Linked DNA regions of Homo sapiens. The protein of the gene in region 4 purifies or fractionates together with the protein of the main gene of each other region. This does not show direct contact. Each region holds a gene or a part of one and is shown on either strand. Other genes may lie near its edges.

Region 1 (6,423 bases), on a different chromosome or scaffold from region 4:
ACAAATAAATAACTGGTTTTACCGTCCTTCCCCACTGGATCATTCCCATCAACATTTACACATACTGTTATCCCCCCACTGACCTCTAAATAACATCCAAACTCCTTAATGTTTCACACAAGTTCCTCATACCCTAGTCCCTGCCAGTCTCTCTCTAGTTTTATCTGTTAGCAAACTTCCTTTGAAAAAGAATGGAGAGGAGGGGATGTTCCAGGTAAGGGGAGCAGCAACATAAACAAAGGTACAGAGGCATGAAACCACCTTAACCATTTGGGGATGTTTGAGCAAATTTTCATCATAATACCTGTTGTACTTTCATTTGTTTACTTTTATGCCTGTCTCTCCCACTGGATAGTGAGCTCCTTGAGGTAGGGAGTCTGACTTATTTATTTCTATATCCTCAGATCCCAGCAACAGCTTCACTGCCCAGGCTGTCCCTTGCCCTCTCTACCCCTTCACTATGGCAGGCCCAGTTGCAGCTGTAGCCACTAGCAGGGTTGACCCTGGTCCTGGTACAGCCCCCAGGGCTGCTTGCAGCTCTGGCCAGGCAGGTGCCATGCCCGACTAAGCAGAAACCCCTGGTGAGGCTCTTTATTGAGGAGGAGCCGGCCCACTACAGAGAGAAGAAAAACATCCCATCTACATGACAGTGAAGGGAGTGGTGTTTTATGTCACCTCCAGAAAGGAATTTTATGGAAGAAGGGGCCCCCTATAATGCATTGACCAGGAAAGTCCACCAGAGGGATAGCCAAGATGTCCCTGGGTCCTCCAGACCTCACCCATGAAACTCTGGGTCTCATGGCCAAAGAGCTGGAATCCCTGGATGATATCTTCACCAAAGTGTACAAAACCAAATATCCCATGGTTAGCTACACAGTCTGAAGAATTCTTAATAGGGACAGCACCCCAGCCTGGACTTCAAACCTGAAGACCAACCCCATTTTGACATAAACAATGTGTTCTGTTGTTTCATCTCCAAGAGCAGCTTCTTTGGAGGGTAGGTTAGGGAGATACTCAGATGCTAAATCTTCTGCAAAATAGGCTACCTAAAGCCTCTGAATCACCAGGATCTGAATAAAGCAGATGTTTAACCTGGTTGGGGGGACATATTTTCAAGAACTGGATGTATTCAAGTAAAAGCTTGACACCTAGTAAGGAGGCTATAGGATTCTTGTCTGAAGAGGTGATCCAGCAAGATGACCTCAAAATTCTAAGTACCCTGAATGTAAGTACCTGAGAGACTAAGCCCTGTGTAAACCTAGGGAACAGCCTGCAAAAGAAAAATGTTACACAGGCCCCTTGAGGATTAACAACAGTTGAATAACAGGATTTCTTTTTCCAGTTTCTTTATTTCTAGGCCTGTGCCCAGTTCTTACTAACTGAAGGCAAATTTTTCAACCTCTCTGAATGGCAGTGTCCTTTCTCTGTAGAGGTGGAAAGTGATGCTTTGTTATTTTAGAATTCAAAAAGGCCCAGTTGGTTTACCCTTTGGTTTACCTCTGATCAGGTCAGACCCAGCTGCTTTTGAGTCCCGCCTGGAGAAACGCAGTGAATTTCGGAAGCAGCCAGTGGGGCATTCCAGGCAAGGTGATTTTATCAAATGTGTGGAACAGAAGGTAAGACCTTCCCCCATTTGTGGTGTTTGCTTACCAGCACTCCTTCACCCTCCTTACCCTCACCCTTATCCTTAAAGTTGGTTTATTGATGGGTCAGCTGGGTGAACTGAACATAGTCTCTCCCAACTCCATTTCCATCCATAAATGTTTATCCTGCTCTTTCTAGGCAAAGTACTGTGGTCATGGTGGAGATATAGAAGTATGAGAGGGGTACTTCCTGCTCCCAAGAGGAGCAGTCTGGTGGTCAAGGCAAGGCACACATGGTAGTAGGCTAGAGGTATCAGAGAAAATTTCCCATGGGAGATGGAACCTGACCTAGGCTAGGAACGTTGTGGGGGATTTAAATTAAGTAGAGAGGAAGGAATGGGACTTTGATGTAGAGCAGGGGTCATCAAATTTTTTCTGTAAAGAACTAGATGTTAAATATTTTAGGCATTGTGGGCCGTATGGTCTTCTTTGTGACTACTCAGCTCTGCCATCATAGTGCAAAAGCAGGCCTAGACCGTACGTAAATGAATAGGTATGGTTCTGTCCCAGTAAAACTTAATCTACAAAAATATTTGGCAGACTAGATTTAGTTTCCTGACAACCAGCCAACCCTGCCAACCCACCCCCATCCATTCCCATGTTGAGGAATTAGCTTAAACAGAGGAAGAGCTTTGAAAGTAAAAGGGGTTTCAGGAGACAGCAAGGTACTATGCCCAGTTAAAATGGAGAGGGAAGTGTTAAGGCTAAAGAAATAAGTTAGGCATTAAACTCTTTGGGCTTAAGGAGTACAGGCAGGATAATTTAGCTGCTAAGAGGATGGGCTCTGGGGCCAGATGCCAAGGACTGAATCCTAACCCTTCCACTTACTAGCTGGGTGACTCTGAGCAAATTGTTACTTCTCCATGCCTCAGTTTGCTTATCTGTAAAACAGGAATAATAACAGTACCTACTTCACAGAGTTGTGCTGAAGAGATAATACCATTTAAAACTCTTTAGCGCCGTCTCTGGCATAAGTACTTAATATATATTAGCCATTATTATCCTTAAATAGGAATCAAAGCTGAGGAAAAGCATGTTGAAAACTGTGTCTGGGAAGATTATTCTAATGCAGTGTTTTTCAAACTTTTTGACCATGACCACAATAAGAAATATATTTTACATTGCAATTCAGTACACATGTAGGTATATGATTGTAACTGAAAAAAAAATGTATAAAATAATGCTAACTTTTACAACATGCAGTCCATTCTTATTACTTTTTATTCTCTTTCATCTTTTAAAAAACTCTGATCACAATCCACTAAATGTATTTCACAACCTATTATTTGAAAAATTCTAACCTAGGATGGTGCACAGAACAAACTGGTGTAGGAGAGGCCAGCGCCAGGGAGAATATGGAGTAATCCAGGTGTGGGCTGCAGAAGCCTGAATTAAGGTAGTTACAGTAGAAAATTGGGATTCTACATTGTGTTTTAAAGTCAAATTAGAGGTGTTTATTTTACTTGGAAAATACTTTTTTTGCCTTGGGTATCCTGAATTTTAAGTGAATCTGCTGAGTCTTAATGACTACTACTCATCTGACAAAGGGCTAATATCCAGAATCTACAGTGAACTCAAACAAATTTACAAGAAAAAAAAAACCCCATCAAAAAGTGGACAAAGGATACGAACAGACACTTCTCAAAAGAAGACATTTATGCAGCCAAAAGACACATGAAAAAATGCTCATCATCACTGGCCATTGGAGAAATGCAAATCAAAACCACAATGAGATACCATCTCACACCAGTTAGAATGGCAATCATTAAAAAGTCAGGAAACAACAGGTGCTGGAGAGGATGTGGAGAAATAGGAACACTTTTACACTGTTGGTGGGACTGTAAACTAGTTCAAACATTGTGGAAGTCAGTGTGGCGATTCCTTAGGGATCTAGAACTAGAAATACCATTTGACCCAGCCATCCCATTACTGGGTATATACCCAAAGGATTACAAATCATGCTGCTATAAAGACACATGCACATGTATGTTTATTGCGGCACTATTCACAATAGCAAAGACTTGGAACCAACCCAAATGTCCAACAATGATAGACTGAATCAAGAAAATGTGGCACATATACACCATGGAATACTATGCAGCCATAAAAAATGATGAGTTCATGTCCTTTGTAGGGACATGGATGAAGCTGGAAACCATCGTTCTCAGCAAACTATCGCAAGGACAAAAAACCAAACACTGCATGTTCTCACTCATGGGTGGGAATCGAACAATGAGAACACATGGACACAGGAAGGGGAACATCACACACTGGGGCCTGTTGTGGGGTCGGGGGAGTGGGGAGGGATAGCATTAGGAGATATACCTAATGTTAAATGACGAGTTAATGGGTGCAGCACACCAACATGGTACATGTATAGATATGTAACAAACCTGCACGTTGTGTACATGTACCCTAAAACTTAAAGTATAATAAAAATAGAAAAAAATAAAATAAAATGACTAATTGAGTTAATTAGAACAGGATTAATAGTAAATGGGTTGCCAGGCGCAGTGGCTCACGCCTATAATCCCAGCACTTTGGGAGGTTGAGGTGGGCAGATCACTTAAGGTCAGGAGTTTGAGACCAGCCTGGCCAACAGGGTGAAACCCTGTATCTACTAAAAATACAAAACTTAGCTGGGTGTGGTAGCAGGCGCCTGTAATCCCAGCTACTTGGGAGGCTGAGGCAGGAGAATCGCTTGAACCTGGGAGGCGGAGGTTACAGTGAGCTGAGGTCATGGCACTGCATTCCAGCCTGGGCAAAAAAAAAAAAAATAACAGATGGGTTAATTATAATAAGGTTGGGGAGCAAATTCAACTCCTATGACAAATAGAGTTTACAACTTTATGTGAGCAAACAATTCTTTACTACAAATATTTTAACAATTGTCATTTCCTATAATAAACACTTATAGTAGTAAGGTTACAAGTCAATAGCTCTTGGAAATATTACTATATTATAAACTTTAAATATTAGATAGGAATGTTCTTTGCCCCTTTTTGGTAAACAGACTTAGAAATTTGGCTTTATGAGGCCGGGCGTGGTGGCTCACGCCTGTAATGCCAGCACTTTGGGAGGCCAAGGCGGGCAGATCACGAGGTCAGGAGATTGAGACCATCCTGGCTAACACGGTGAAACCCCTTCTCTACTAAAAATACAAAAAATTAGCCGGGCGTTGTGGCAGGCGCCTGTAGTCCCAGCTACTCGGGAGGCTGAGGCAGGAGAATGGCGTGGAGCCAGGAGGCGGAGCCTGCAGTGAGCGGAGATCACACCACTGCACTCCAGCCTGGACGACAGAGTGAGACTCCATCTTAAAAAAAAAAAAAAAGAAAGAAATTTAGCTTTATGATAAAATGTAGAATATGTAAAGATTTAATTTAAATTGTGGCAGCTCTTAGGTAAATATTCACTTGCTATCTTCTGTATCTAGCTAGATAGAGGAAGGCTAACGGCTAACACATATTTTCCATTCCCACAGTCTTGTCTTTACTACTTTGAGTTATTGGTTCCCCACCACATGGGACTCAACATCCCCCTTTTATAATACATTTTTTAAAAATTCTCCCTTTTCTACCCTGAAATAAAACAATAGGTATGTAAAAATATAACCTACCTGTATGTATAACCTCAGGTGGGAAAATCAATATAATGCCCTAACCATAATATAAAGAAAAGTATTTTTTAACAAAATACATATTTTAGCATGTAAATATTAGGGCACGACTACACTGTGAGACCTAATGTAGTCATGAGGTGCTTCCACCCATTTCTGAAATAACCTTGAACATGTAAGCAGCAAATACTGACTGGCAAATGGGTGTTATGTTGATAATTATAAAAACTCTAAAACCACCGGGTGCAGTGGCTCACACATGTAATCCTAGTACTTTGGGAGGCCAAGGTGGCAGATCACTTGAGGTCAGGAGTTCGAGACCAGCCTGGGCAACACGGTGAAACCCCGTCTCTACTAAAATGCAAAAGAAAAATTAGCCAGGCATGGTGGCGCATGCCTGTAATCCCAGCTACTCAGGAGGCTGAGGCAGGAGAATTGCTTGAACCCGGGAGGCGGAGGTTGCAGTGAGCGGAGATTGTGCCACTGCACTCCAGCGTGGGCGACAGAGTGAGACTCTGTCTCCAAAAAAAAAAAAACCTCCAAAACCATGAGCAGTGTTGTTATCAGTGACCTATGATTCCACAATGTGGAATCTTTCAAGTTATATAGTAGTTGCATTTCTGGAAATTTTAGTATTAAAGCAGTGTTTAAAAAAAAAAGGTTCTAGGCCCAAGTAATTATAAATATTGAAATATTATAGGTATTTTCAGCTGCAAGAATGTCTAGCTAGACATTGAAAAGTTGTACAGGATGAGGGAAATTTTTTTTATTATGTAGAACTCACCCATTTGACACCCCTCCCATAATGTAGATATCAATATCCAATAAACTATTATGATAACCATAAAATTATCTGCACAGATTTCCAAAGCATCCATAGTAGGGAAGTAAAATACCCATTTAAAGTTCTTATTAAATGCTTCTGATTTTTGACATGTAGTTTCAACTGCTTTAATTACCTTATTTCATCAAATCTAAAGCTCACTCTTATTTTTCTCATTTTAACATCACTAAAATTGTCTTATAATTGATATGACAGGAAAATATTGTGCTATTTAATTGGCATCATTTTCTGATGCATAAAATAATGGTGCATCTTAAGATATGATGTCTTAGATTTGATAAAATGCAATACGCTTATACTTAGGGCTTAAATTTTTTATT
Region 2 (6,423 bases), on a different chromosome or scaffold from region 4:
TTGCCCAACTTCCAGTTATGGCTTAAAGTTTAATGTGAGACTTGGGGGCATTCAGAGGAGACCATGCCCTTAGTCCACATCTTCACATCTAATCATAATAGTGCTAACATTTTAAAATGCCACTTTAAGAAGGCAGTGATGTATAAAATTGTGCCTTGTTTGGTTCTAGTGCTGCAGGGAAATGTGAAGCAAAAATTAATTTGATCCCTATGAAGTATTTGCGTAATTTTGGCATTAGTGGACAGAATTTTGCTTTGTAGGGGAAAAAAGGGTTTGTTAGAAAAAATAATGTTTTCTTAAAGTAGTGAGAGCTGGCTATTGAAAATCTACCTTTCAATACTTTCCTTTTAAAAGAAATAAATGTTCTAGCAGCTACATGAGTTGTTGCGAAGAACTTTCTGCACATGAGAGCATACGGACACAGATTTAAAAATATATTAAAAAGTACTTAAAGGAACTTAATAAAATTATACTTAAGAAAATATTTACAGCCATGGCAAAATTGATCAGCTAATGCATAGTTTCTTCATTACTATATGTAGGATTTTCATTCATGGTGTTTTTAAAAATGCTTAGTCTGATAAACTGAAAAAGCGTGACAGAATATACTAAATGGAGAGTTAATAGCTATAAAACTTACTTGACTACTTCTTAGTTAGTATGGGGCCAAATCTAATCTCAACTTTTTACCACAGCTTCATAGCAATTGCAGATAAAGTAATTAGGGTTCCATATTTTAGGATACATTGTACTTTTAAAAAACATTTTATTTAACGTGATCCTACTTGGTCAGAAGAACTCATATAAACACTTTTGGATATATTAAGTTAGAACTGAAAAATAGCACAAAAAAGACTGCTAATATATAAATGGGGGTTAGGGATAGTAAATCCAATGGAAGGCATCTAGTTGAAGGTGAGTTATTATGAAGTTCCAAGAGAACTTGTTATATGGCAGTCTTTCTAACTTTTAAATTTCTTCTCTCTTTCCCACCCTACTCCTTTACACATACAGACTCTCTGTTTCTGGTCTTCCAAAGTTAAATCCAATAGGTCAAAGTATCTGGGAAGTTTGAAATATTCATAACATCAATCTTATAACTAGGACTTAGGATAAAAGAATCAAGATGTAGATTTTGTCAAAGGATTCTTCTCAATCTATTACATTCCCTGTGTCTCTACCAAGGCATTTCTAACATAAGAAAGGCATAACACAGGTTTATATGGCAACAAAAATCATCTTTGATTTTCCTGTAATATTTCTAGCCACCTTTCATCGCATTAGGATTTATTTTTAGTTGCTGTGAGTAGGCAATCTGCCTTGTTTTGAAGTTTTCTGGAAGACCCTTTAACATTAAATGATTTACTCTAGAGTAGATCAAGAGCACTCACTGTGTTTTCCTCTCTGATTGGGCTATTCAGTGATGCTTGTGGAGTGGCAAGTACCAATCTGACATCTGCGCTTCAGCATCGCTCAGAAACACAAAGCAAGCATTTTATTTGAAAAGACAACTCCAAGTGACATGAATAACCTTTTATCTTTAATATGGAATCATTAGGAACAACCATAGAGTTGTCAATCCAGAGGTCCCCGTAGAATCCACAGGCATCACATAGTATTAACTTGGCTTTCTTTTCTGTAGCCAGGAGTTGGATAAATGTGAAAATGATCATTGGAGGAAATATATATATTTTTCACTTTTAAAGGACTGTCTTCTTTATAAACATTTCCAAGAAAATAAATCAGCTTGTACTTTTCACCTTTCGTAACAAATGGTTTCTTACACAGGTATTTTCAATCAGCTTTTAAATCTGAGGCTACTCAGATGCAAGCTGACAGCTGTAATTTCTTTTTGTAGAGAGGCTGTTTTATGTGTCACAAGTGTTCAATACATGTTTGATAGAAGTTTATAATGTGCCTATGGAAGCCAACACCCAGACCAGAAGGTAGAGTGGTTTCCTGGCTGGGAACTGTCGATACTGTCATGTTGGATATTTATCTTTTCCACCTGGGGGACAACACTGAAACAGCTCCATAATGAGGTTCTGCCTGGTGTCTGCAGGTCTTAGAGGACTTGCTGACTTATTTTACTTTAAAATGGCAAAGAAAAAAATTACATTCTAGTACTCCTCCCTTAATGTTTTTCGTGGTGATTTTAGCCAAGGTTAATGCAATCTTGACTTCATATTACACAATGAGTGAACGATAGTCTTCCTATCCCCTATTCCCCCCTTTCTCAAGCTTAAGTATGCATCAAAATCACCTGGAGGGTTTGTAAAACAACAAATTGCTAGGATCCACTCCCAGAGTTCCTGATTCAATAGATCTGGGGTGGGGTTCAAATTTTCATATTTTTAATAAATTCCCAGGTAATGCTGATGCTGCTCTGCCAGGGACCACAGTTTGAGAACCACTCTACTTGAGCGATGGTACTTTAGAAACCTGGTTAAAAGTTATGTTAGCACTTATTATTGTCAAACATATTATCAGGGAATTTTTGCTAGGGGAAAGTATAAAAGATTGAGGAAAGTTGAGTGCATGATTAATGTATCAATTAGCAAGTGTTGGAGATCATTATGCTGAGCCTTCTAATGTGATTTGGTACTTACTGAAGTCTATTCTGTGTTTAGCAGAGGGTCACAATGTAATGTTCCATATTAGGGGTATTTAACAACATTTGGAAGTTCATTTTGGACATTTCATATATATTTGTTATATACCAAGGAATCTTAAAACATGAAAAAAAATTTATATGCCATCAAATTTAGCCCTTTGCCTTTTCTGAGGAGAATGAAACTTGAATTGTCTTATTCTTCTGTCTAACCAATTGTCCTGATGTCACTAAGAGTTATTCTCTAATTTTTTACTTGTTTTTTTCTTTTACGTCTAACCATGAGCTTCTTGCATCTAAGCTCATTTCTTTCTGTTTGGTCCTAAGTGGAAATGAAAAGCTACTTTCCTGGGCATGGTTAAAATTCATGTTCTATAAGGCAGTCATGAATAACCACTGAGCCTGCCTCAGCTGAAATTCATCCAGTTACATTTATCTATTCTATTTACCAATAGTTTCCTCTTATAAAACTGCAGTTCTGGGATTGAGGGGGCCAGAATCTGAAAGAATTTTATATTTGAACATAGTCTTTGGGGTCTTTTCTTAGGATTTAGATCTGTGCTCAGAAATACTCTGCAAGTAAATATTAGGGGGTGTTATGGGCTAAACATTATCAAAATTGTGCAAGGATCACATGTGTTTTATTGTCACAGTTCCTAGTTTCTGACTCTGAAATAAGATCATTTGATTTTTTCCAGCCATCACTAATATGGTTTATAAACAGGTTACAAGACATTTGCTGAAGTAACTAGCTCATGTCATCTGTTTAAAACCTTTTTACAAGGGAAACCAACAAGAATGTTCCTATTTAAAGAAGAATGGATATGTTTTTAACAGTGTGTGATTTTAAATACGCCAGCTCAGTTACTCAGACACTCATGTTAATGAAGTCAAGGTCAGGGTTTGATCTTTGGGTAGGTCACCTAGTGTTGTTTTCTTTCATTCTGACCACTATCTTGCAAACACTAGCTCTTGATCACAGGAAGTATGTTCAGAAATAGGGAACTCCTGATGGCAATGGTCAGGAATCCAGGGAAGGTAGGGGCTGGACACTAGACAGGTCCACCTGGGGTCCTAGGAAAGACACAGCAATGGACTACAGGAAAATATCTGAACAGTGAGATGGAGCATTAGGGAAGCCTGTGTGGAAATGAAATGCGTATAAATGAGGGGGCAGTCAGTTTGGGTTGTAAGTGTAATCGTGGGTAGAGGAACCCATGCTTGGAAACTAGGATGTAAGGGCAGGAATCTAGTTTTTAGGGGGGCTGAAAAAACAATTATTGTAATTATAATAATATTTATTAAGAACTATTAATAGGCAAGTAACTGTGCTAAATTATAGTAGTAACACTTAAGTAGTGCTTACTTCTAAATTAGTTTATTGAACACTCATACTAATGTAAGAACTGTTACTATTCCTGTTCAACAGATGAGGAAACTGCATCTTAGAGTTGTTAAGTAAGATATTCAAGGTAACACAGTTTAATAAGGTGTGGAGCCTCAAAAAAAAAAGTTGAAATACTACTATTGTCATCACTGTTTTTGAGTGAAGAAATGAAGGCAAAGACATTAACTTTTTGAAGCTCATACCACTAGTGAATGGTGAAAGCCAGGATTTGAAATGCAGCTAACTGACTTTAGAGCTCATTCTTTAGCTACAACTTTTTATTGCCTCAGAGTAAATGAAAAAAGAGTTCCAAAGATTGAGTTATTGCAGGGACTAGTGCATAAGCTACTAGGAAAATGGCCTAGTTATTGAAGAGCAGTACAAAATTAGAACTTAGAAATAAGAGCAAGTTGAGCCTGGGTGCAGTGGCTCATGCCTGTAATCCCAGCACTTTGGGAGGCCGAGGTGGGTGGATCACCTGAGGTCGGGAGTTTGAGACCAGCCTGACCAACATGGAGAAACCCTGTCTCTACTAAAAATACAAAATTAGCTGGGCATGGTGGTGGATGCCTGTAATCCCAGCTACTCGGGAGGCTGAGGCAGGAGAATCGCTTGAACCCAGAAGGCATTGCAGTGAGCCAAGATCGTGCCATTGCACTCCAGCCTGGGCAACAAGAGCAAAAAACCCCATCTCAAAAAAAAAAACCAAAAAAAAAAAAAAGAAATAAGAGCAGGTTGAATAGGCAAAACAGCTAGCCTGACTCGGTACTGGCTCCTAACCCGCATATCTTTTAAGTCCTCCCTGACCAGGAAAAGGATCCTTGTAGAACCGAAGTGGATCTGAACTTACAAAGACCAAGTAGATTAAATAGAGAATAAAAGGAGATAAGAACAAGGTGAAAAGCAGGGATCAAGATTATGTGGATGGAATTTCATTGACATTGGGATATAGCTAAAACTCACACTCACCATAGAAGGATAAAAGGATAAAACTTGTCATTTTTTAATATAAAGCATCCGGCAACATGTAACATTGTCTTTTAAGATGTTGTAAGGAAATACCATATTGCATAAATGAAGAGCATGTATATCTAGAAAGTGAATTTTGTGAAATTCCTTTTCAGCAATCATTCCGGCCAAGATTCCTTGGTGTGGCTGAACAATTACACAATGAAGGTTTCAAGGTATGTTCATTAGTTTTAAGTTGTTTTCTGTCAGCATGGAATCTGTCCACAAATCAAAATATTGCAGAATATTGGAAAAGAAATAGCCCAAAATATGTCCTTTTGATATGAAAGGTTTAACTAACTTGGTAGTTTCAAAACTTAGAGTCAAATCATTAAAAAGACTGGTATTAACTTTTAACAAAATTACCACAAATTCAATAGAAGTTGCCAGCTAAAAACTGAGAAAGTTTAGCTTAAGCACAATTGAGACAAAGTCCCAACACATTTCCATATGTTTTTCCTTTTTTTGTTTTCATATGAGGTTATAGATTCTAGCTGTGACAGTTACAGGCAAAACTTCTTTGCAGTGAATACCTCCACACAAAGCCTGGTTGAGTAAAACAAAATTATTCCCAAGGCTTATGATGGGCCTGTGGCCATGGGGATTTTTTGACCTGCTAACAAGGAATTAGCCATGAATAATTGAGAAATTATTAAATTTATGAGAAATTGTCATTGAATTATTAAATTCAAATTAAACATATAATTATTAAAATGGAAATGCAAATAAAATTGAGGTTCTTAAGTTTTTTAAATCACTGCAAATATATAAAAAATGTTTAAAGTGCCCATGCCTCTGGACTGTGAGTCCAAGTCTCTATCCATGGCACTATACTACTTCTCATGTTCAGCAATTTCTTCTTCTTTATGTTTTAAATTACATGTTCCATAAAAATAAGAAATCACTGTGATACGGTAATTGATTTTTTCATTTTAAATGCAGCTGTTTGCCACGGAAGCCACATCAGACTGGCTCAACGCCAACAATGTCCCTGCCACCCCAGTGGCATGGCCGTCTCAAGAAGGACAGAATCCCAGCCTCTCTTCCATCAGAAAGTAAGAACTAGGCATACTGTTTTCTGAAATAATTTAGAGGATTAACTTTGAGAACCAGTATATGAATATTTCACCTTACTTGATTGCAAGTCTTTTAAAACAAATTTAAAAATGAATACATTTGTGGATGATTGTCAAGTTTCACTCTCCATCACTATGGAATACATAACGTCATGTGTACATGGTGATATGAAACGTGTTTCAAAATACTTCTTAGTAAGGATACTTTCCTTGACGGAAACAAGTGAGAGCATGAAGAATGTAATGCAGCACTTTATATTTCATGTCAAACTTATATTGTGTATAGATAAGTACATCGAGTATAAGATGACCAGCTATATTTCACTAAGGTTGTGCATAAT
Region 3 (5,539 bases), on a different chromosome or scaffold from region 4:
CATATATATTTAGGATAGTTAGCTCTTCTTGTTGCATTGATCCCTTTACCATTATGTAATGCCCTTTTCTCTTTTGATCTTTGTCGGTTTAAAGTCTGTTTTATCAGAGACTAGCATTGCAACCCCTGCTTTTTTTTTTTTTTTGCTTTCCATTTGCTTGGTAAATATTCCCCTATCCTTTTATTTTGAGCCTATGTGTGTCTTTGCACGTGAGATGGATCTCCTGAATACAGCAGACCAATGGGTCTTGACTCTATCCAATTTGCCATTCTGTGTCTTTTAATTGGGGCTTTTAGCCCATTTACATTTAAGGTTAATATTGTTATGTGTGAATTTGATCCTGTCATTATGATGCTAGCTGGTTATTTTGTCCTTCAGTTGATGCAGTTTCTTCATAGTGTCAATGGTCTTTACAATTTTGTATGTTTTTGCAGTTGCTGGTTACCCCTCGTGGAGTTTTTAACAACCCAGGGTAGACAAGACAAACCTTTAGAGAAGCATAAACTTTAAGATGATAATTAACACTGAATGTTCTCTCTTAGGATTTGCAAAGAAGCCAGTGATTGGTGAGGACAGTGATTGCTGGCAGGGATTCGACATTTATGCAGCCTGATGTTGTTTTTAATAATAATGTGAATTTTATCAGCATACAAACTTGCTCACAATATTGAGACATACAAAATGGGAAGGCTTCTAAACAAGCTAAAATGTATAAGAAAACTGTTAACTCTAAAATGAATATATTGGAGTTTGTTGAAATTTCTGCATTTGGTTGGAATCAGTTTCAGAAGGCTTCATGAAGTTAAATTTTAATCAGTGCTTTAGGGAAGAGACGAGACTGAAGGCACAGAATGAAAAGAAGGGCATTCTATCTATAGTGGGAAAAATATGCCTAGAATATATTCTGCTCCTCTCCTCTCTCTCCTGGTCGACATAGCAAACTGCTATTCATCCTGCAACAAATGATGTCAACAAAGTGGTCAGGGAAGGGATAAGAATGCAGCTTACACATATACATGTACAGTAAACTCTAGATTCATATCCTTGGACATTATGTACTGGAGTAGAGTATATGAGTCAATGAGTAATGAGAATAAAAGTTTAGAATGGGAAAAAAACGCATACTTGATGGTGGTTTGATATGTATTAGGAGTTTGGATTCATTTGAGAACTGGGAGCTGTATTAAGTTTGGAGCAAGTTGATTACTCTTTAGCTGTATTGTGTTTCTGTTTATTAAGCTTCAATTTTTTTTTTTTTTTTTTTTTTGAGACTGGGTCTTGCCTTGCCACTCAGGCTGAAGTGCAAGTGGCATGATCATAGTTCACTGCAGCCTTAACTTCCCAGGCTCAAGCGATCCTCCCACCTCAACCTCCTGAGTAGCTGCAATCACAGGCAAACACCACCATGCCTGGCTAATTTATTTATTTATTTTTTATTTTTTGTAGAGGCAGAATCTTACTATGTTGCCCAAGCTGGTCTCCAACTCCTGGGCTCAAGCGGTCCTCCCATCTCAGCCTCCCAAAGTGTTGGGATTACAGGTGTGAGCCATTGAGCCTGGCCAACTATCTTTTTTAAAATTAGGGCTTGGGTTTTGTTGGTTCAGCTGTTAGCTTGCAAGAAATGCAGAAAAGTTATGTCAGTGTCTGACAAATGTTAGCAATTTTGTAAGTTTGCTAACACTTTGGTTATCTAACTTTATTCCTATAGTTGTAAAAAAGCACTATGATTAAAAACTCCTTTATTGGCAGTATTCTAAAACCTCATGTTAGGTTGACAGTCTTCTTCCCTTTCCCCAAATTTTAATACCCACCCCAGGTTTCTAAAGCAAAAAATTGAAGAGCATTTTCCTCCTGTGTTTATAATCCCAACTAAAACACTATGTAATACATGTTGGAAATATTACTGTGCTTTGTATATGTATTAATTTTTTTTGCCCTAAATTGGCCTCTAGGAATGTGAAAGTAGATGTACCCACCTGATAAGAAAAAGTGAGCTAAGTAACTAACTTGATAACTAGGCATTCAACAAGTCTTTTTCTCTATTTCATAGAATCAGTGTCACCTTAAATTATAATAGGTTTGCACAGAATTCGTGAATTCTTGAGATAGAGTCTTGCTCTGTTGCCCAGGCTGGAGTGCAGTGGCGTGATCTCGTTCACTGCAACCTCTGCCTCCCAGGTTCAGGCAATTCTCCTGCCTCAGCCACCTGAGTAGCTGGGATTACAGGTGTGTTCCACCACGCCCAGCTAATTTTTGTATTTTTAGTAGAGAGGGGTTTCGCCATGTTGGTCATTCTGGTCTTGAACTCCTGGCCTCAAGTGGTGCACCCACCTTGGCCTCCCAAAGTGATAGGATTACAGGCATCACTGTATCTGGCTGAAATTAGTGTATTCTTTAAAGTTCATATTTTTCATTAATTCACAGAAGAATTGTAAAAAAGGTAACACGCAGTTGACATTCCATTTTTCCAGAAAGACAGATAATTACATACTGTAGAGGATGACTCAAAAGTCTGTTTCAAGCCACTGACTTCCTAAACTAATGAAGGCCTATTCAAAGTCACTTAATTCAGCTGTTTTTTTTTTTTTTTTGATAAATACAAAGATACATGTAAAGTTTTACTTACCTGATTTTAAAAACAGGCTACCAAAATTTATCCAAATATATTAAAAAATGAGACTGTTTTAAAAACCTTTCGTTTCCATATTGTGACTCCACTAAGCGGGTAAAAAGTTCAGGACAGAGATGGAAAGGAAAGAAGGAAACAGGAAGAAGTGAAACTAGGAAGGTGGTGCCAGTGGCACATGGATGAAGAAAGAGAGATCATCAGCCATGGAGAATTTTGTAATGTAAGTAGAGAGAGAGATTGGGTAGGAAGACAGGCTTCACAGTTTGTAAAGTGTAAGGGAACTACCCATCGTACCCTGTCATTGACTAGGGCTGTGAGTTATGTAGTTCTGTCTCCTCTTGCAAAAGACTTACCACTTCTGGCAAGTGATTAACCACTTCTGGCAACTCTTCATTTCTTCTTATCCTTGAATATTCATCTACATCACTCTAAACAGCACAGCCCCAGAAGCATGGAAAGGGGAGTTATTAGTATGGAAAGGGGAGTTACTCTTCTGGTGTAGTGGTCCGATTGAGTCCATGGCTTCCCAGCCTTACCAGAGGTGATAAAAATGTCAATTCCTTTGGGGCCAATCTTGCTCCTCCAGTGTGTTTTAGCCCTAATGAGGTCATGGTTATTTCTAGACTTCTGAGACTTACTGTGGCTTTGAATTGACACAAACACTAATTTTCTGTCAAAGGCTAGAGTGATGGATGTTATATGCCTGAATTTTCTTTGAACATTTTATTTTAAAAGAGATACTTTGGGCTTTTCATGAAACTAAAATTCTGGAACCCTAGAGCAGTCTATTATATCTGTCACCACAAGGACTTTCCTTAAAAAGCTCCCTCCATAAGCACTTGGATGTGTAAACAAGATCCTTTCACAGATCTTTTTCTCTTCCTCTCCATATCCCAACTTGTCTTGGAGACTACTTTTTGAATTATAAATCCCTTTCTGCATTTCTATTATTAATTTTTATTTGTAAAATTGCTAAAATAGCTAAATTTGGCCATTTAACCTGCATTTAAAATCTAGGAATGTGGGGTGATCATCTTTGTACATAAATTACCTAATGACCCTGTCCATGCTGTGCTACGTGTTTAGGTGGAATAACACTCCCATGGATGAAGCACTGCACTTTGGACACCATGATGTATTTAAAATTCTCCAAGAATACCAAGTCCAGTACACACCTCAAGGAGATTCTGACAACGGGAAGGAAAATCAAACCGTCCATAAGAATCTTGATGGATTGTTGTAATGGTCTCAAATCCCAAGATTTAAATCACTTACCTATTTAATTGTGGAAAATGATTATGAAGAACATGTGTATTTCTATCTGGTAGTGATGTATATTTTACATTTGTCATTTCAGTGTTACTGGAGTTTTCTTCATTGTGCACACAGGACAAATCTGATCTCTTTGGGAAAAAATAGAAATAAAACAATCTCCCTCCATAATGTGAGCAATATTACCTCGTGCATTGTATAATTTGATGTAAAAGAAATAGTTACCAATGCTAGCTTGTGTGGTCTTCCATGATTTATTTGTGTTTTGTGAATTTTCAATTTATGGTGATGATCTGCTGATATGCATTTATAAAGTAAGCTCTGTTGTACAGTCTGTCCAAATGGGTCAAGGTTGCCTTTAGAAGCAAATAGTGTGATTTTCAAGACTTCAAATACAAATTTAGTTTAAGTGTTTGAACAACTATATGCACTTACGGTTGTGTGTTTAAAATGTCTCTCTCACCCCCTAGCTTCATGATGTGACTCTTAAAAAACTATAATAGTTAACAACTGTTAGTAAGATAGACCAATTCTGATTAGACTTTATCAGGGAATCTGTTTAAGATATGTTTGGTGACCAAAACGTATGTGTGAATGTAGTTATAATGCTTTTGAAAAATTTTCCTTTTTCTATATCCCCTTAGTCCAGCCTCTCTTCTCAGACATTTAGCTATCTGCCTCTTTCCTTTAGCTGGGAAAGTGAGAGCTGGCATACTATGCAGTTTTTATGTTTTCCATAGTAAGTCAGAAAATGCCTCCTATTTCTGGCATCAGAACTTTGCCATTTGTCTACAGAAGACGAACCAGAGACAAAATTACTAAGTATAAATTAGTCAAGTTTATCAGTCTAAAAAACGAAGGGATGTGCAACTGCAGCTCTTTAAGAAGTTTTTTTTTTTTAGCTTCTAGGGTAAAGATAAATTCAGAAATGCTCTAAGCTACCAAAGTTATTCTGAAAGTATGGGAACTGCTACAACTAACAAACATTTGTTTCCAAGCCTGTCATTAAGAGTCTGCATCAAGAGATTTGTCCTCCTTGGGGGACCACTGGATCATTCCAGATTTCTTGTGATTTTTCTATTGTGTAATTCTTGGTGGGCTCTGTAGTTTAATAATAAGAAAAAGGCCATTTCATTTTAAATTGTGACCTATAATTCTTTGTCTTGGGTTGGTAATTCAGGATTCATTTGGAAAGTGGGTAAAAGGGGCTTCAAAAAACGGATAGAACAGGATTTTCTAGGAGTTACACATACATTTTATCCTGTCATACCTCGAGATAAAGTGGCATGTTAGTGAGGAGTTCTGATATTAAGCACACACACACATGCACACAAATGGACTTCTCTGAAGCTGTGTTTAGTGAAATGAGCTCAAGTACATGAATGTTAGTTGTTATCACATACAGCAAATTCCTTTTTTTTTCTTTTTCTATGAGCACACTCTGCTGCTTCTAAACTTTACATGCCTGATGGCACCTTACTCCAGCAGCCTCCAGGTGCTTTCATTTTCACTTCCAGTCTAAGCCAGTGGCTCCTGCCACTGCCCTCCCATTACCTAGATGGCACCTCCTTTGGTGAAACCACGGCCAATGTTCCTTAGCTGCACCAGGCCCGAAGCTGTTCCCATGCTTGAGCTTCC
Region 4 (6,423 bases):
AGATGTCCATTCATCTGTCTGGAGTTGGGCAGAGGAGGGTCAGGTTTTCATACCCTCCTGTCAATCAGCCATTGAATGTGGGTTGCCCCAAAAGGGTGTGTGACCTTGGGTGCGGCTGCTCTCTGCAGCAGAGGCAGTGCCCAAAGGGGGCTGACAGCTGAAAGCCGTCTTCTGGCAGCACTCCCAGCAGCTGGGGGAATAAGTCCTTTATTCATGATTATTCCTGGAGGGGGATCTCGGGAGCATACCACAGCGTTCACCACAATGCTTCAGTGAAAAGTGATAAAAATCAACTCATAATCAATGCTAAGAACTTGGGAAAATGAGAAGGATAGAGGAAGGTGAGGATAATTACAGTGTTTGAACTGACAAGACTTCCATATGGAGGGTCTTGGAGGTGAGGCTGGGCTAGAGTTTTGAGGAGCTGACACATTGTGATGAAGAAGCCCAGGAGGGGACAAGAGAGGAGGTGTTCAAGGGTGAAAGGCTGTGATGGCAGAAAAGGGCAAGATGTGTACAGGGATGACAATAAGATTGGCTTTCCTGCAGCAAGATGTTGAGAAGAATTAAAAGAGACAGAAGCAGAGGATGGAGGTGGGGAGCCTTGATGCTCTTAATCAGCTTTGACTTAAGAAACAAGTAGTAAACATCAGAGGCTTCAGAGAAAACAGTTCTTGCTGCTGTGTACAGAATAGGTTGGAGAGTGAGGGTAGAGGCAGGGAGGCTGCCTGTGGGAATCTGGGATACCTTGGGGAGCTTTAGCTGTTCCCATGATGTCTCCTCACCCAGAGTAGGAACTAGGCTGAGCAAGCGAGGCACCTAGGGTGCAGAATTTGTGCATGCATGACCCTGAGAATGTGTGTTTCTTTACATTTTTTCTAGCGCCTCCTTAAATGTTTTGCCCTAGGCACCTCGCTTGCCTCTCCAGAGTCTGACTCTGCCCTCACCAAACCATCCCGGACAAATATATAATCTTAGCAAAAACAATGTATTTGTTCTGTCAATGCCTTTCAAAACAAGCACCCTGCCCTCAAAAGGCTTGCTGGGGAATGCAAAAGAATGAGAGGTGTGTAATGGGGGAGGGGGAGCTGTTAGTATTTAGCTGGGATGGTCAGGGAAGGTTTTTCTGAGGAGGGGACATTTCAACTGAGACCTGAAAAAGTTATCCACATGGAATGGGTGGAAGAAAGAATTTCAGACAAGAAAGGATAGCATGTGCAAAGATAGACAAACATGCATTCATTTGCACACTTCTGAATATAATCCTCTTAAGCCATTATGGAAACCGGAAGAGGTGCTTCCAAGAGTTAGAAAGCACCATGCCTTATGTTTGCCTTTATGATTAAAGAAGTCGGAGATAGTGAAAGCTGGGGCAATTGGTTGTCTCTTTAAATTCCAAAAGGCACTATTGAGTTTTGGAATTCTAGATGTAAAAATCATATTCTACTGAACATGGTGGGACCACATCTTGAAAAAGGGAAGGAGACGCGATATTGAAAAGAAAATAATATATATTTAAGAAAACATGTATAATAAAATTACCTAAATAAGATTTAAATTCTTCCTCCTTTAGGGTTATGAGCCGGATGCTAGTGTAACCAAGTTGGCAGAGCAGTATGCCAAAGAGGTATGCTCTTTACATGTAAAGCTATTATTGCCTTTTACTGTCCCATGAAGTTATTTAACCAGCGTGTTTATGTATGCTAGAATGGTACCAAGCTGTTGCTGACAAATGATCCATTGGAAGCAGCGCATGGAGGCAATGTATTAATTACAGACACTTGGATAAGCATGGGACAAGAAGAGGAGAAGAAAAAGCGGCTCCAGGCTTTCCAAGGTTACCAGGTTACAATGAAGGTACAAATTGATGCCTCTCTGAAGGTTCATTAATTCCATTCATGAAGGCCAGAACCATCTAATCACTTATTCACTTTAGGGGGAGCAGACTGTCCTTTCATTCCCTATAAAAGGACTCACTGACTGTATCCCCTAGGGACTTCTCTCCTTCCAAAGATTAGCTGTGTCCTTTGGAAAGGCATTTTTGTGCTGGATGAAGGAATTTGAAACCCACTGAGAAGAGAGGAGCAGGCTTTTCCCTCTCACAAGAATCGAGGCATTGCAGTGTTTTACTCTTTGTGTGTTTAGAGAAATTAGGTTACTTCTGATGCATGCAGTTTCTTATGATTTCTCCCCTAAGAAAAGCCCCTTAACTATGCTCCTCAGGCTAGTCCTTGCCTCTATTTTCCAAGGACCTCTAAATCCAGTTTAGTTTTGCTAATGCCCTCCAGGGCATTCCCAGGGGACTCATCTGTTTGGCTGTCTTCCAGTAAGATCTGGAACAATGCTTCTCAGTCTTGAGCAGGTATTAGCATCACCAGAGGAGTTGTTAATACACAGCTGGCTGGGTCCCACCCCCAGGGTTTCTGATTCAGTAGGTCAGGGTGAAACCTGAGAATCTGCATTTCTACCAAGTTCCCAGGTGATGCAGTGCTGCTGCCTCCAGGGCCACACTTTGAGAAGCAATGTTCTGGAGGAATACCCTGAAAGCCAAATGCACAGGGGTTTTGTCAGCAAAGCAACAAATCTACTTTGGTGGAGAAAGGGATTAAGCAAGTACAATTAATATTATATTGATAAAGTAATACATAAATACAAGTTCTTTATTGTTATATATAAAATAGAACAGAAGTTTGAAAAATAAAAAGTAAAAATGTCTTTCTCCCATCTCTTTAACAGAGACTATTCCTAGAGGTAGCCTCTGTTTAATAATTTGATGTGTCTCTTTGCAGACCTTTTCTGTGCATTTACATATGTATGCCTCAATACACACATAACTATTGATTTTTTTGTAAATGATATTTTAGACATTACTTATTTATTTATTATTATTCTTACTTTTTCCACTTAACAAATCTTAGATTTTCTTGCTCACTCATTTAGATATTTTTTATTCTTTTTAGTTGCTGCATAGAATTCCAAAGGATAAGTGGAACCATAATTTACTTAAAATGTTTCCTATTGATAAATTAGGCTATTTCTGAGAATGCCGATTACAAAAATGCTGCAATGAACTTGCTTATCCATATTTCTTTGTGCAAATATTACTGGAGAATAAGATCCTGAGGAGAGGAATTTTGGGGTGAAGTGGTATAAATTTTTTAAAATATGAGAGTGCTGCTAAATTGCTTACCCAAAGAAGATTAAAAATGTATACTGCTGCAGCTGTATATTATAGTTATTTTTCCATATCCTCTCCATGTTTAGCTTTTATTTACATTTTTAATTTTTCTAAATCTGGAGGAAAAATGGCACCTCATCTTTGTTAAAATTTGCAATTCCTTGATTACTAATGAAGTTAAGCATCTTTTTATGTTTATTGGGCATTGCCCTTTTTTCTATAAATTGCTATTACATTTTTTGCCCATTTTCTATTTTTTTGCCTTTTCTATTATTGGTTATAGGAGCTCTTTATATATTATGGCTAATCCCTTATCATGTGGAATATATTTTCATGGAGATATTTTAAATTATATAAATTGCTTCATACTTACACTTGCTTGGCCAATCTTATATGTGTTGCTGGTGCTGGAACTGTAGGATTGAAGAACAGTCATTTTGTTGATGTATGGCATTTATAAATGTTACTTTTTTCCATGTAATTTTGCTGGTATTTTAGAAACTCAAAATGTCCTGAACCTAGAGCTTGGGTGGGAGGTAAAACAAAATTGTAGTACAAAGGCAGTAATTTTGAGGTAAGAAAGTATGAAGGAATGTAGTTTTGAATCTGTATGTGAACAATAGAAATATATAGGGAAATGTAACTTTCAGCAATTAACTGTTGGAGAAAATTAAAACTGCTAGTACATTTGCATTAAGAATGAAAAATCTAATGCATAGTGCTTATAATCCTGTTTAATTCACCCCTACCTCATTACCTTTATCTAAATTGTTTTAACTAGTGATGGAGTATGCTTCAAGTGCTAAAAATAATAATTTGGAGATCAGCTCCAAATATAATATTATCACACCAAAGCAACTTTTTAAATATAGTGGACTATAATTGGTGACTTTTGCTATCAGCCACATATTACATTAGTAGAGTTCTTTACTGAAAGGTCTACTGTTCCACTAAATAGAATAACAGAAAACTGAGTTACTGGTGTAACTTGAAGTGGTACTCTCTTAAATTTAAAAAGAAAAAAAAAAAAAAAAGACTTGCCAGACACGGTGGCTCATGCCTGTAATCCCAGCACTTTGAGAGGCGAGGCGGGCGGATCATTTGAGGTCAGGAGTTTAAAACCAGCCTGGCCAATATGGTGAAATCCCGTCTCTACTAAAAATACAAAAATTCACTGGGCATGGTGGCACATGCCTGTAGTCCCAGCTACTCAGGAAGCTGAGGCAGGAGAATTGCTTGAGCTCTGGAGGCGGAGGTTGCAGTCAGCCGAGATTTTGCCACTGCACTCCAGCCTGGGTGACAGAGCGAGACTCTGTCTCAAAAAAAAAAAAAAATTTGAAAGTACCATGTACATTTCTCCTAGGTGTCTTGAGATAAAACCATCACTCTGCTCCTTTGTCTCTCCCTTTGCATTGATGTCTGACTACTGGCCATGTGTGTTTTTAGATACTGAAGAAAACAAATATGACTGCCACATATAATAGTCAAAAAGTGGTCTTATCCCCATCTCTTTAGACTGCTAAAGTTGCTGCCTCTGACTGGACATTTTTACACTGCTTGCCCAGAAAGCCAGAAGAAGTGGATGATGAAGTCTTTTATTCTCCTCGATCACTAGTGTTCCCAGAGGCAGAAAACAGAAAGTGGACAATCATGGTAAGCAAGAAACAAGGAATGGAGGATAAGTTCTTTGTGTGGTTCCAACTTGGTCATTCATGCCTTTGGGGAAATAATAAGCAAGTGAGATTATCCAACTACATTACTTGCTCATGTAACATCTATTTTTTTCCAGAAACTTTATAATACATCATTAGTGCTTATTAGCATTTATAGTGTATTTGCATGGAGTGAGATTAATCTCCTTTCAAATAAATCCATTTTAACCAAAATTCTTACCACCCTTGATCCGCCTGAGCACCAGCCACCAGTTTGCCAACCATTATAAGTCATATAATTCTTATTTTAGAATCTCTTTGTTCATGTTTAGAGAAGCCCCTAATTCAGTTCCTGTATAAAATGGGCATTCAAAACATCTTACTTTTTCCCTTCTCTTTTTCCTCATTCCATGCCTTACTTTATGACTGGACTAGATACTTGTTTTCGTTCTTTGAGTTTGGCCATAGGGATATATGTGTTTTTAGGTATAGAACATTTCCAAATTTCATGGCAAAACTTATCTTAAAAATTAATGGTTCCTTTCAGATAAAGCCACTAGTTTCATCTTCATCACTGTCATTCTAGGAAATATTAACCATATGTCTACTTTACAATATCCCAAATGTCACCTGCTCTGGAAAATAGTACTGACATGTCTAACTTAGCTCCACCATTTTTTTAGCTTTTAGTGACTTAACTGGTCTCAATTACTGTATCAGCCAGGATCTTACTTGCAAACGGGAGTCCACTCTAGGTAGATAAATGGAAAGTAATGTATTAAGAGACATTAAGCGGCTCCCAGAATCTTTTGGGAAAGGAAGTGCAGTGAATAATTCTTGGACACCATATAGCCAGGGACAACACAGGCAGAAAAATTGCCCAATGACACTGTGGTTCTTTTGTAGCCAGAACACCACTGACACAGCCTGGTACCTGAGGCTCTTGAAACCAGATGTCAGATACTCCATTATAGCCACCACAGCTGAAATAGATTTCTCTACCTGCATATGTAGCAGAAGATCCAATCTCTCCGAAGACGGCTTCCACTGCATGTTGTTTGCTTCTGCACCCAAGTCTGGAGTAGATGCAGCTGAGTGGGATGCCTGTACCCTAGCTGCAAGGGAGTTTGGGAAAGGCAGTTTTTAGCTTTCAGCCTCTGGAGTAGAGAAAAGCAAGCTGGAAAGGACTAGCTTCTAATTATTTATCTAATCTATAAATTGGAATAGGTTTATTGTGAACATTAAAGTAATATGTGTAAAGCTTTTAGTATAGTACATAACACATAACACATGGTAAATATTGTTATCATAATTATTACCCTCATTATCATCATCTTCACTATTGATCTGATACAGACCCTATAAAATAAGCAGGGGTTCAAGCTCAACTATGGCTGCTTGGCAGCCAACCGTGACTCCCTTTTCAATAGAAGTTTGTATATTAGGCCTAAATTTGTCATATCTAATAACAGGGATGATTTTTTTTCACTGCATCTTTCCAGCTTGCCACCTCAGGACACTAACTTTGGCCAAAATGTCAATTGCCTTGTTATCTAGGCCAGTACTTCTGAAGCCTTAATGTGCATTTAAATT

The links.
Region 1: the proteins of OTC (region 4) and ATPAF1 purify together in Homo sapiens (affinity purification with mass spectrometry; one large-scale study listed by BioGRID and IntAct). This does not show direct contact.
Region 2: the proteins of OTC (region 4) and CPS1 purify together in Homo sapiens (affinity purification with mass spectrometry; one large-scale study listed by BioGRID and IntAct). This does not show direct contact.
Region 3: the proteins of OTC (region 4) and GLS purify together in Homo sapiens (affinity purification with mass spectrometry; one large-scale study listed by BioGRID and IntAct). This does not show direct contact.

Annotation. Positions count from the first base shown.
Region 1 is NC_000001.11:46,660,449-46,666,871, reverse strand, and holds part of ATPAF1 (ATP synthase mitochondrial F1 complex assembly factor 1), read left to right. Parts: intron 1-993; exon of another isoform or gene 994-1,223; coding exon of another isoform or gene 1,224-1,225; intron 1,226-1,507; coding exon 1,508-1,616; intron 1,617-2,948; exon of another isoform or gene 2,949-3,039; intron 3,040-6,423. UniProt on the Homo sapiens protein: Has a complex stabilizing activity in the assembly of the mitochondrial F1-F0 complex.
Region 2 is NC_000002.12:210,669,780-210,676,202, forward strand, and holds part of CPS1 (carbamoyl-phosphate synthase [ammonia], mitochondrial isoform b precursor), read left to right. Parts: intron 1-5,122; coding exon 5,123-5,182; intron 5,183-5,948; coding exon 5,949-6,061; intron 6,062-6,423. UniProt on the Homo sapiens protein: Involved in the urea cycle of ureotelic animals where the enzyme plays an important role in removing excess ammonia from the cell.
Region 3 is NC_000002.12:190,959,115-190,964,653, forward strand, and holds part of GLS (glutaminase kidney isoform, mitochondrial isoform 1 precursor), read left to right. Parts: intron 1-3,715; coding exon 3,716-3,872; coding exon of another isoform or gene 3,873-3,912; 3' UTR 3,913-5,539. UniProt on the Homo sapiens protein: Catalyzes the first reaction in the primary pathway for the renal catabolism of glutamine. Plays a role in maintaining acid-base homeostasis. Regulates the levels of the neurotransmitter glutamate, the main excitatory neurotransmitter in the brain.
Region 4 is NC_000023.11:38,407,169-38,413,591, forward strand, and holds part of OTC (ornithine transcarbamylase, mitochondrial precursor), read left to right. Parts: intron 1-1,573; coding exon 1,574-1,627; intron 1,628-1,707; coding exon 1,708-1,857; intron 1,858-4,624; coding exon of another isoform or gene 4,625-4,693; coding exon 4,694-4,831; intron 4,832-6,423. UniProt on the Homo sapiens protein: Catalyzes the second step of the urea cycle, the condensation of carbamoyl phosphate with L-ornithine to form L-citrulline. The urea cycle ensures the detoxification of ammonia by converting it to urea for excretion.